3 separate regions of the Homo sapiens genome follow, and regions 2 and 3 are each reported to be linked to region 1. Evidence: microRNA targets listed by miRTarBase, many of them from high-throughput screens and not tested one by one. Region 1 holds a microRNA gene; each other region holds the end of a gene's coding sequence.
What was found. The annotated mature microRNA hsa-miR-5195-5p reads AACCCCUAAGGCAACUGGAUGG and lies in region 1 at 1,481-1,502, opposite strand. An mRNA with a match to its seed (bases 2 to 7 or 8) in the 3' UTR can be bound and repressed. Matches are read on the target gene's strand: a 7mer-m8 pairs with bases 2 to 8, a 7mer-A1 pairs with bases 2 to 7 and ends in A, and an 8mer does both.

Region 2: the mRNA of SETD1A is a reported target of hsa-miR-5195-5p. Seed matches in the 3' UTR shown: 7mer-m8 at 1,011-1,017.
Region 3: the mRNA of SRSF11 is a reported target of hsa-miR-5195-5p. Seed matches in the 3' UTR shown: 7mer-A1 at 2,634-2,640.

Annotation. Positions count from the first base shown.
Region 1 is chr14:106,849,463-106,853,651 of GRCh38, forward strand. It overlaps MIR5195 (microRNA 5195), which reads right to left and starts at 1,537; the gene lies at 1,423-1,537. All of the region lies in intron 1 of LOC124903399 (a long non-coding RNA gene), which reads left to right. It also overlaps IGH and the pseudogene IGHV5-78.
Region 2 is chr16:30,983,393-30,987,581 of GRCh38, forward strand. SETD1A (SET domain containing 1A, histone lysine methyltransferase) reads left to right here. Exons shown (of 19, transcript NM_014712.3): 18 at 243-380; 19 at 458-1,272. The coding sequence ends at 631. It overlaps HSD3B7 (hydroxy-delta-5-steroid dehydrogenase, 3 beta- and steroid delta-isomerase 7), which reads left to right and starts at 1,815. Exons shown (of 7, transcript NM_025193.4): 1 at 1,815-1,905; 2 at 2,261-2,432; 3 at 2,657-2,812; 4 at 3,031-3,139; 5 at 3,213-3,312; 6 at 3,448-3,610. The coding sequence starts at 2,267. RefSeq lists an enhancer at 1,284-1,796.
Region 3 is chr1:70,250,148-70,254,336 of GRCh38, reverse strand. It overlaps SRSF11 (serine and arginine rich splicing factor 11), which reads right to left. Exons shown (of 12, transcript NM_001350605.2): 11 at 3,834-3,972; 12 at 1,285-3,729. The coding sequence ends at 3,532. Among named protein-coding and RNA genes, the nearest start is that of SRSF11, 31 kb to the right of the region's middle. RefSeq lists a silencer at 214-414.

The DNA.
Region 1 (4,189 bases):
CTGGTCATAGCTGAGATCACACAGTCATTTTCTCCTTTCTGGGTGCAGTGATAGTCTACCAGGAGATACTGTGATGGACTGTTTATTGGCTTCCTGCTTGGAGATGGTGCTTTCCAAAGAGCACCAGCTACAGTATTAACAGTGGGGTTTTTGCTTGGCTTATGTTGCCCAGGAATAGGGGCTACTGTGGATTCTCAGGCAGTGGGTGTGGCCATGTATCTCCCAAAAGATGCTGTCCTTTGTGTTAAGCTGCCAGGGCAGATGGCTGCATAAAGCAAGGTGAGGGCTGGGCCAGGTAGGTTTCTGCTCAGAGTATCCTTGTGCAGGGCAAGCAGCAGCCTCTCTGGGTATGGGAGACACAGATAATGGTGAATTCTATTCTTAATCTGCTGTTTAATTTTGTTTGTCATCTCATCACTCTTGAGAGTTTTTGAAACTATGATAATCAGGGATATTGGCCTGTAGTTTTATTTACTTGTAGTGTCTTTTCCTTGCTTTGGAAATAGGGCCTTCCAAAATAAGCTTGGATATATTTCTTTCTCTTTATTTTGTTGGAAATTTGAGTAGAGATTCTAGGTTTTTTTTAATTTTTGATAAAATTCAGTAGTGAAGCCATGAAGTTCTGGACTTTGATTCGAGATGTTGGAAAAATCACTGACTCGATCTCTTTACTCATTGGTCTGTTCAGATTTTTTTTAATTGGAGTCTCACTCTGTTGCTCAGTCTGGAGTGCAGTGGCTCGATTTTGGCTTTCTGCAACCTCTGCCTCCCAGGTTCAAGTCATTCTCCTACCTCAGCCTCCCGAGTAGCCGGGACTATGGGACTGCGGGTGAACACCACCACACCCAGCTAATCTGTGTATTTTTAGTAGAGACGGGGTTTTGCCATGTTGGCCAGGCTGATCTTGAACTCCTGACCTGAGGTGATCCACCCGCATCGGTCTCCCAAAGTGCTGAGAATACACATATGAGCAACCACGCCCAGCCCAGATTTTTTATTTCTTGGTGGTTCAGTTTTGATAGGTTGTATGTCTTTAAAAATTTGTCTATTTATTTTAATTTATTCTTAACCAAACAGGTTCTAAAATATTTGCAAGATTACTCACAGGAAATCTATTTATGACAGAAGTCTTTGTTATATCAAAATATTTACGAATTGGCACAAAGATGAATTATTCAGTGCATATTGTTAAAAGGAAAACAACAACAAAAACAAGATAACTTATTAATGGTACAAAAAGGGGTTAAATGATTTTGGAAAAGTAAGTAGAAAATAAAAGAAGGAGGGAGTAAGAGCGGACAGAAGGGAGGAAGGCAAGCAAGCAATGATGAACTGTGTAAAATTTTCACTAATTAAAAGACTATTATATTGAAGAGGTGCCTATTAGGCAGCCTTTTGATGTTAACCATGTAATATACACCATGAACAACCTTGTAGAACACACAAGAGCCCCCTCAGAGAACTGGATGGGTCAGGTCTCCCATCCAGTTGCCTTAGGGGTTAGGAACGCTCCCATGTTGTTCTCTGGTTTTTGCTCCTGAGGACACAAACAGCCAGTGTTTCCTCCCCGGATGAATAGAGAGGCCCCTGGGGAGGGTGTGTCTGGCAGCTCACTCTGCACCTGCACCGCGGAAGGTTTTAGATGGTCCCTCTCACACAATAATACATGGCGGCGTCCGAGGCCTTCAGGCTGCTCCACTGCAGGTAGGCGGTGCTGCTGGAGCTGTCGGCTGAGATGGTGACGTGGCCTTGGAAGGATGGGCTGTATCTGGTATCAGAGTTCCCAGGATAGATGCTCCCCATCCACTCCAGTTCTTTCCCGGGCATCTGGCGCACCCAGTGGATCCAGTAGCTGGTAAAGCTGTATCCAGAAGTCTTACAGGAGATCCTCAGAGACTCCCCGGGTCTTTTCACCTCTGCTGCAGACTGCAACAGCTGCACCTCGGCAAAGACACCTGTGTGGGAGACACAAAATTTGCATCAGGGGCTCCCTTCTGCCCATTCTTCTCTGTGACCTCAAACCCTGGGCAGGACTGACCTTGGAGAACAGCCAGGACGAGGGAAAGGATGACGGTTGACCCCATCCTGGAGGAGGACAGAAAAGAAAGCACTGAGATCCCAGCTGGGTGGTGAAGGAGACTCACTGTGGAGGAGAGCCCTGGGTTTAAGTGGGGAGGCCCCCACTTGAATTTGCATAGTTGCCGCCCTGGCCTGAAGGGAAGAGTCTACAAGGTTTATAACCCAGAACCGCAACTGCAGAAAAACGGCTGAACTGAGCCTCTTGGGAGAGGCAGAATAAGGTCTTAATAATGTCTTACAACCCCCTGTTGTCCCTCCGCACTCTTGTCCATGGTCCTACAAGACCCAAACCAGGGCCTCCCTTCTTCCTACCCTTCTCTGTGACCCTGTGAAGGTGATAAATCTAGATGAAATCACGTGTGTTTTAAAAAATGAGAAATAGAACCAGGAAATGCTATGAAGACAAAATTCAAATGCACATATGCCTGATAATAAGAACTACAAAAAAAAAAAAAACACCTAGTTTCTACTTGCTGGCAATTTCCCATGAGTGCCATTATGGTCTGGGCACCCAGCAAAGGCAGGACCACCCTAGGGCTTCAACAGTCCTCAACTTGATTAACTTGCCAGACCTTCACCCATGCCAAATCACACATTTTTTCTGGTCATTTTGTCTTCTACATTTCTACAGTCTGCCAATTCAACATAAATAGGGAATATTTGTTTAGGTCTCTGAATTGCTGATGGAACTGAAGGGATTGCCATTGCTGCACCCAACTCCTGGTAGTTCTGTTTTAAGTCCTTTGTGTCAACCCCAGCACCTTCTTGTTTAGTTCTTTCATTTTTTAACATTCATTTTATGATATCCACATTGCTTGGAGGAGGCCCTTAACTATCCCCTGTGTCTGCCCCATTATCTTGTGAACCACTCTCATTTCCTTATCATCTAAAAGATTCAAATGAAAAGACAAGGCAATACAAACTACACAGTTTCTAAAATATTTGCCAGATTGCTCACAGGAGTTGTACCTGGGGTGCAGAAGCAAAAGGACTTCTCTTTATCACAGCACAGGCCATGACCTAGGTAAGGTGCATGCGAAGCAATGTCCAGCAGCATCAACAGAAACACACAGCAGCAGGACCTGGATAAGATGCATGCTAAGCAATGACCGTCGGTATCAACATAAACACATAGCACTATGGCTTCCATATACAGCATTGGGCTCCTCATCTGGAGAGCCCACTTTGCATTTTAAAGAGAGAAAGGGCAGTCTCATTCTCAGGGTAGAGAAACTTTACATGATCGGGATCCAGTGCTTGAGGAAAGCTGTCCCATCAGAAGCATCCTACTTGAGGTTGGGATCAGCTAGAGCCATCTGTGATGTGTCTATTGTGAGCTGTGGGTCCAGCATCTTCCCAAACATGCTCCTCCCTTATGCAACACATGAAGCCAAAGAGAATCTGCTACATCAGTCAGTCTCCTAGTCCATTGGCTAATGTTGTTCACGATCTGATGATATCTATTAATGATATCATTCATATCACAAAATGATGCCACTTTCCACACTATCCTCCCTGTTCTAGTTGTCAAGTGGATTCCCCTCCCCAGTCCAAACCCTGGGCTACCATCTGTGTAGCTCTTGTGTGTTGTGTGTTGTTTCTGGACAACTGTACCCTTTGGCAGTGAATGGGAGTCTAGCAGCCTTGGCTCACAGGGCACACTGCAGGGCTGGATGTGCATCTTTTTACTATTATTTTAGCTATCACAGATATGAGTTGCATACTCAGGTTGTTCTTCATTATTTTTACTTGTTCTTGTTCAGGGAACAACTCCTAGGGAGCTGTGTCCGTCGTTTCTAAATTCCATGGATTACTTTCACTTCCTGCTCCTTATTGGAGTGCACACATCATCTCATGCCATGTGATTCTATAGCCATCCAGGCACTGAATGTCTTTTATCCTACACTTTCTCATCCTTTGATATTATAAATGCTATAGACATGTGTCAGTAGTCAGGGTCTTTCTAGCAATTTACACCTCTGATGTAATTGTGTTGAGTGTCCCAAGACCATCCTCAGGCCCCATAATCAGTACAAATAAAGGACTCAAGACAAGCTGTTATTCTCGTGGGTGCAGCTTTATTATAGCAAATGAATATGAATTAAAATGA
Region 2 (4,189 bases), not on the chromosome of region 1:
CAGATTTCCCTGGAGTTCCCTGCGGGTGACTTAGAATGGCCACCAGAGGCTTAGGATGCTGCCCCAAAGAGGGAGGGCTCCTGGAAGCAGAGTCGAGAGAGTCAGTGCCGGGTTAGCGGGAGCTGGAGGCAGAGCTGCAGCTCCAGGCCTGGTGGGCGTGGACCTGGGGTGCTGGCTGGCAGGCGTGCTCAGGGGCAGGAAGTGGGGGACTCTTCCCTGACCATCGCATCTCACCCTGGCAGATGGTGGCCGACATGCGGGAGAAGCGCTACGTGCAGGAGGGCATTGGCAGCAGCTACCTGTTCCGGGTGGACCACGACACCATCATCGATGCCACCAAGTGTGGCAACCTGGCCAGATTCATCAACCACTGCTGCACGGTGCGCCAGGGGCCAGCCGGGGCAGGAGTTGGGGGTCGGTGGGGGTGGCCACGGCTCACACGCCCTTCCATCCGCAGCCTAACTGCTACGCCAAGGTCATCACCATCGAGTCCCAGAAGAAGATCGTGATCTACTCCAAGCAGCCCATTGGCGTGGACGAGGAGATCACCTACGACTACAAGTTCCCACTGGAAGACAACAAGATCCCGTGTCTGTGTGGCACAGAGAGCTGCCGGGGCTCCCTAAACTGAGGTGGGGCAGGATGGGTGCCCACACCCCTATTTATTCCCCCTGGTGCCCTGAGCTCCCAGCACCCCCCCAGCCTTAGTGGGCTCAGCAGGGCCCACATGCCCCCATCTCCAAGCGTGGGGTTGGGGGCCCCAAGCCCAGCGAGGGAGCCTCAGTCCCTGGAGGCAGCTTCTGCCTCTCCTGTCACCCCTGCCCACCACCCCCTGATTGTTTTTCTTTGCGGAGAAGAAGCTGTAAATGTTTTGTAGCAGCCAGCAGCTGTTTCCTGTGGAAACCTGGGGTGCCGGCCTGTACAGATTCTGTCCTGGGGGGCTACACAGTCCTCTTGCTTTGTGTTAATGGGGACTTCCCCTTACGCCCTGCGTGTACCCCTCCCCAGTTTAGGGGTCTCTGGGGCAGTGGCCATGTTCTCCCCCTGGGGGGGCTCTGCACCCCCAGTCCTGGGGACTCCGTGCCTGGAACCCTGCCTCATCTGTTCCTGCCAGACCCTGAGGGTCACCCTTCCACCCTGGTGTCACTCCCCGGCTCAGCCAGGCCAGGATGGCGGGGTGGGTCCCTTTTGCTGGGCTGGACTGTACATATGTTAATAGCGCAAACCCGACGCCACATTTTTATAATTGTGATTAAACTTTATTGTACAAAAGTGTTTGGTCGGTGTATTTGGGCAGGAGCGAGGGGTTGGGGGTAGAGGGCACGGAGGGTTGTGCAAGTTGAAGAGAGGGAAAAGTGGGTACCTGAAGTGTGGGGCAGGTAAAGGGGCCTTCAGGCAAGAGCCCAGACCTGCAGAGACAGTCCGAGACTGTCTCGGACCCCCTGACAGGCTGCAGCAGCCGCACCCGCACCAGGAATACCCCACCAGTGCCCGCCAGGGTGGTGCCAAGGTCAGGCCTCCCCTTCCTACAATCACAGCTGCAGCTGGACCTCCGGCCTCCTGGGAAGCCCAGCAGGAGGGAAGGCCTGAGGTCACACTGTGGGATGAGGTCACCGCTGGCTCCACCCACAGCCCCAGACCCCTTCAGCCCACTCTGCAAGTTCGAGCTTCATCCCCACCAAGTTCTCCGCTGGACCCAGATGCCAGTGGAGCACAGAGCGGCCGCCAGGGGGCGCCTTGGGGCAAGAGTGGTGGGGGTTGTGGCTGGGCGGGTCTCTGTTCCTGGAATGGGGCAGGAGGGAGAAGGAGGAGCCAGCGGAAGGACGGTGTGCGGGCCGGCCAGCCCTGGACGAAAGAAGAGGGCCCCTCCAGGCCAGTCTGGGCACCCTGGGATAGCGGCTGCAGGTAGGCAGAGGCGCTGCCAGTGCCCAGGTGGCCTTTCCCTCCATCCGGCCCTTCCCACCTTCCTATAACCTTCCCTCCACCTCCCTCAACTCCTGGCCTCCCCACCCTTTTACTGCCTTCAAATCTCTCTCCCTAAACCCTGACCCCTTCCTGCACCCCAAGCCCGCCCCTCTCTCCGTAACTCAGCCATCAGCAGGGGCAGACGGCAGGTGGCCTGGTTGCTGCAGCTCCCAGGATCAGCTCTGCCCTCCCCGCAAACGCCAGCCTCGTCACCGCTCCAGGGCACCTCCAGCAGTAACAGGTGGTTGCAGCAGGTGGCAGCCAGCCCCTGGATGAGCCAAGGTCTCTTCCCCAGCCAGGCATGGCCGACTCTGCACAGGCCCAGAAGCTGGTGTACCTGGTCACAGGGGGCTGTGGCTTCCTGGGAGAGCACGTGGTGCGAATGCTGCTGCAGCGGGAGCCCCGGCTCGGGGAGCTGCGGGTCTTTGACCAACACCTGGGTCCCTGGCTGGAGGAGCTGAAGACAGGTTCTTGTTGGGGGAGCTTGTGGTGGAGAGGGTGTGGACGCTTCCCCAACCCTTCCCAAGCTGGGATCCCCACCCCTGCAGTGGAACAGATGATGCTGGTTTCTGTCCACATGGATGGGTCGAGTGAGTCACATTGGGAACGTGACTCCAGGGTGGAAGATGAACCCAGCCTCTGGCCTCTGGCCCCAGCTCTGACATGGCCTGTGTCCTCCAACCCCGGCCAGGGCCTGTGAGGGTGACTGCCATCCAGGGGGACGTGACCCAGGCCCATGAGGTGGCAGCAGCTGTGGCCGGAGCCCATGTGGTCATCCACACGGCTGGGCTGGTAGACGTGTTTGGCAGGGCCAGTCCCAAGACCATCCATGAGGTCAACGTGCAGGGTGAGGAGCTCTGGACACTCCTGGCCATCTTGCCTGTTTGTTCCCCACTCTGTCTTTGGCCTTGACCTCCGGTGACTCCCCTGGGACAAGTTGTCCTATTGACAGCCCTGCCCCCGCCTCCCCTGACCTGTCATGGTTTTCCCTGGACCTGGGATGGGGAGGAGGAAGATGCAGAGAGGGAAGAAGCTGCAGCTTGGATACGCCTCCTCCTCTGCCAGGTACCCGGAACGTGATCGAGGCTTGTGTGCAGACCGGAACACGGTTCCTGGTCTACACCAGCAGCATGGAAGTTGTGGGGCCTAACACCAAAGGTCACCCCTTCTACAGGTGAGTGGCAGGCCCTCTTGTCCTCTAAGAGCCCATTTCCCTCAGCATTGAGTCTTCCTTCTCCTCCCACCAGGGGCAACGAAGACACCCCATACGAAGCAGTGCACAGGCACCCCTATCCTTGCAGCAAGGCCCTGGCCGAGTGGCTGGTCCTGGAGGCCAACGGGAGGAAGGTGAGCCCAGAAAAAGGAGGCGCAGAGATGGGGCTCCTGCCCTGCACACCCCCTTACCCTGCCAGCCCAAGGAGGCCGGGGCCGAGAGCAAGCTGTCGGGTCCCAGGTCTCAGCAGTACCTGCCTTTGCCACCAGGTCCGTGGGGGGCTGCCCCTGGTGACGTGTGCCCTTCGTCCCACGGGCATCTACGGTGAAGGCCACCAGATCATGAGGGACTTCTACCGCCAGGGCCTGCGCCTGGGAGGTTGGCTCTTCCGGGCCATCCCGGCCTCTGTGGAGCATGGCCGGGTCTATGTGGGTGAGGACTGGGCTAGGCAGGGGGAGGCTGAGAATATGGCAGGAGGACTTGCTCTAGAAGGGGGCAGGACCCACATGGCCCTGGGAGAGAAGTGTGGACTCTGGCTAGAAAAATATGGTCTATACATGGGCCAAGGTAGACTGTGATTATGTCTCCACAGCCTGCAGAGAATACAGGATCCATGCAAGTTGGGACATTAAAAAGTGTATCATAGGCTACAGAGAAGATTGCAGCTATGGGAGCAGCCATTCCCCAGGAGAGGAGAGGAGAGGGACAGTGTGTACACAGCACTAAAAGGGCTGGGTTCAGTGGCTCGCATCTATAATCCCAGCACTTTAGGAGGCTGAGGCGGGAGGATGGCCTGAGCCCAGGAGTTGGAGGCTGCAGTGAGCTATGACCGCACCACTGCACTCCAGCCTGGATGACAGAGACAGACCCTGTCTCTAAAACTTTTTTTAAAGGAAGTAGCATCTACACAGGGAATAAGGTCACCTGCCACTCCATCCTGCAGTCCCCAAGCCTCTCAGGGCCCACCACGCAGGTCCTGGTTTCTCTATCCTCTCCCCAGGTTCTTTGCAG
Region 3 (4,189 bases), not on the chromosome of region 1:
GGTTGAAATTCAAAATATCTACCACTCCAAAAATTGTCTCATTGAGAAATTTATAAAGGTACAATTACTACTTCTGCTAATAAAACCTTAATAGACATTCTGAATGCTTTTAAAAGTATGAGTAACAATTCCATTACACCCATATTTAATTAAAACACAACCACATGTACTTGATTAGAAAAAATAGAAGCACAGGGATGAAATGCATTAGCTGGTTTTGAGGCAGACTGAGGGAAAAGAAATCTCAATTCCATTTGAAAAGATGTGTATCAATCTACAAACAGCATGCATGGATCCAACCCTTCATCTAGTGCCCAACTGAGTGATAATTTTGCTAGAGATAAATTTGATGTATTAATACTGTAATCTGCATGACATAAGCTGTATAATGCACACTCCAGAACCTGACTCAGTTTTAAGATGTAGCTCCAAGGTTAACAGTAATTTTTATCCTCTCCTTCCTTTTCCCAAGTGCCTATTTGCATTTTTCTGTCTTCCATGTATAGAATTGCCACGAGGAAACTTACCTAAGATCCATCTTCATGAAAACAGTTAAGGGCAACACAGCCTTTTCAATAAAAGGTATGCAATTTATTTTGTGCTTTTAACATTACCCCCTACACAAATTATTAGTTACATAACTTTTAAGGGCCCCATAATCAAATAGCAGCTATCATTTAATGTCCCAGGCACCAAAGGCTACATTTTAAAAATTACTGTTTTACAGATACAGATGGGGTCTTGCTATTACCCAACCTGGAGCGCAGTGGCATGATCATAGTTCACTGCAGCCCCAACTCCTTGGGTTCAAAGTGATCCTCCTGCCTCAACCTCCACAGTAGCTAGAACTACAGGTGTGCACCACCACACCTGGCTATTTATTTTTTTGTAGACAGTGTCTTGCTATGTTGCCTAGGCTGGTCCTGGGCTCAAGCACTCCTGCCTTGGCCTCCCAAAGTGTTGGGATTACAGGCATGAGCCATAGTGCCCAGCCAACAACTTTTATATGCACTGGGAAGCCAAAAAAATTCATGAACTGCTTTATTGTAGTCTGGAACTAAACCCACAATACCTCCGAGGTATGTCTGTACTTTGCAAGGTAGCAATCACTTCCATTTTACCCGTAGGAAACTGAAGGTAAGGAACACAGTTATCTCCAGCTCTATGAAATAAAGACCAAATGCATGACTGGACTCTTATCTTTCCATTTAAAAAAGCTCATTGTATAGCTACCACCTCTCGTTCACTCCTAAAGGATTTAAGCAAATAAATAAGGACAAAACATTTTTCTAACAAAAACCACTTTTATTTTTAAATCAATTTACTATCAAATACACAACAGAACTCGGTGTGGAGGCAGTGTTTGATTTCAACTGGTTATCTGTTAAAAGGCTTGTGTCCCAGTGCAACACTACCTTTGTGCAGAAAATGTTCACTGAAAATAAATATCCTAAGAATGGATAATCTTCACTGTAGCATCTTGTCAGTGGCACTACTTTTAAAAAAATGATTCCCTTTAGAAAAGCTAGTATATTTGTATTCAGAGATTACAAGTGAGGGAACACACTGTGAATATTAGGTTTACCATATGTGAAATTTGTTTTTGACTTACAAAAATGCCCATGTCACATGGTTCACCTTTTATCTACTAAAGTTTAAAACAAATGTCATTTGTGTTGAACTTTGTTTTTTAAAAATGCAGTGATTAGGACCATTATTAGAACTTCTTTTACTCACTATAGACAATTCTTTTTGATAAAATCTTTAAAAAGTTACTTACTACAAACTGTAAAAACAATGCTGTTTTTCTATATGGCATTTCAGTTTTTAGGTTAAAAAAAACAAAACAAAACCCTATTTATACTCAAAACTTGGATAAAAGCTACAATTCCAAGTCTCATTTTCCCTTAACCCCAGCCACCCAAACACTACTCATTTCATAAATGAATACTATTTAGTACTGTACAGTAGATACATATTGACAGCTTCTATACTACTCCAGAAAGGCAAATATCTGTATTTCACCGAAAATATAAATTTGCTAGATATAGGTGGGATTTGTTTATACTAAAGTTCATTGCTTTATCCAACCCCATTCCCACACAAAAAATAAGCAATAAAATGATACTAAGCTAAGAAAAGGACTATTTTGGATAGAAATTAAATCATTTTTGACAATTTTGATGGCAATTATCACTACAGTGATAGACTTCCTCTTTTTACTATACTGAAATATGTGGACAGAAAGGGAAAGAATTTGTAAAATGAATGAGGTAAATGTCATACATTCAGTAGCGTAAATAAATACAAATACGGTTTTACAGGAACATGAACATAAGTTTAAGGGTTTTATTATCAAAGTCTTGTAAAACAATTTCAGAAACTGTACATCAACATGGCACAGACTGTAGCCTACTTTTGTTTCTACTGCACAAAAGTGAAGCTTGAAACTTCTGTAACTAAGAAAACAGTTGCCTACTTTGCATATATAACATGAAATCACCGTGTGCATAAGATTACTACTGCAGTAACACAAATTTATTGGTTTTATACAACTTGAGATCAAATAAAGGTACATTATCAAGTAGATTTGTCTTATTTTAAAAGCGTATGAAGGTCAATTTAAAATGCACTACCCCTTTTTTCCAACACGGAGCTTAAAACAAATTAATGAAAGAGTGGAAAATTCAAAATAAGGGCAAGAGATAAGGTTTTTTTCTTTTTTTCCTTTAAGATAGACTCAGGATAGGTAGATAGCTTTCACTGATGTAGATGTGGAATAAATTATTACTTCAGGAAAAAAATTCCCAAACATCTTATGAAAAAGTATACAACTCTACTTCAAAATATGCTATTTACTCACTGCCAAAGACAGTTTTATTTGAAATCTTGTTTCTGTATTTAAACCCTAATTAGCCACCAAAAAAGGTTAGTGCATAATAACCTTTCAAAGTTAAACAAAAGCCACAAAAATTTTGCCACAAGGCTTAAAGGATTATCTATTTCAAATGCTCATTTCCAGATGTAACTATAAGAATGTTAATTTGTCATGTCAACAAACAAGACCATAAGTAGATCCATCATGTTGGAGGATTTTAATGACATTTAGGATATTCTTGCCACAATAACATGCAATCAGTGCATTTCCTACATGGCTCTATTACGGCAATGAATCAAATTATAGAAATACTATAAGTGAACTTACTTAATAAAGGATATCATACGACATAAACAATCCATGCCTGCTGTAGATGCATGCAGCTTTTCATTTTTGTTATGAAGCAGCACCAGAATAGTAAAACTGCTTGGTTACTCAATCAGATTTCACCATGACAAGAATTGGTTACCTCGTACCATTTTCTAAAAGCTTTTTGATGTAAATAACTAATATGAGTAACAGGAGCTTTATAACCATTTATAACTCAGAGCTGTATACATCTAGGTTTGAGATGAACAAATACAGCATTAAGAAATCACACAAAGGAATGACACTGATGCAGGTATACAGTTGGACTCCCTCAGAGGCAATATTCAGTCACTCATATCCATGTCTTCTTCATGATGATCATCCCCATTCACTTTGGATTCTCTTAGTGAATCACCAGTTCCCTTTTCCACAGAACATTCCTTTGTTTTAGGGGAACCTGTTTCTATTGGTTTCTTCTCTTCTTTTTTCTCTTTCTCACTGTCATACCCCTGTTCCTCTTCATCATAATCCCGTGTAACCTGCTTTGCCAAGGAGAATAATAAAAGTAAACTTCTCCAAAGAAAAATAACTTCTGAAAGTACCAACATCACCCCAAATATAAAAATAAATCAATTTGTAAACATACTTTTACATCTTTATCACTCTCTGATTTTCTTTCCCGGTCCTTTTCCTTATCTTTACTCTTCTTCTTCTTGCTTGTTGATCGTTCTCTTTCATCCCTACTTCTTTCTTTGTCTTTATCTTTCTTCTTCTCCTTTTTATGTCTAGAATGACAGTAAAATGTACAGCAACAGGTTTAACTTGTTTAGATGATGAGCCTGACTCAATTTCACAGGATATAAGTAGTACAGCAAAGATCCAACTTCAAAACCTTGGAGAAGTAACACAGGCTACAAAACTAACTTGTTTATAGGACTAAAATGTTCAGTCCTTAATGGTGTTTAAGTCACAAGTCAGAAGGAGAATACATTAAAACATTCT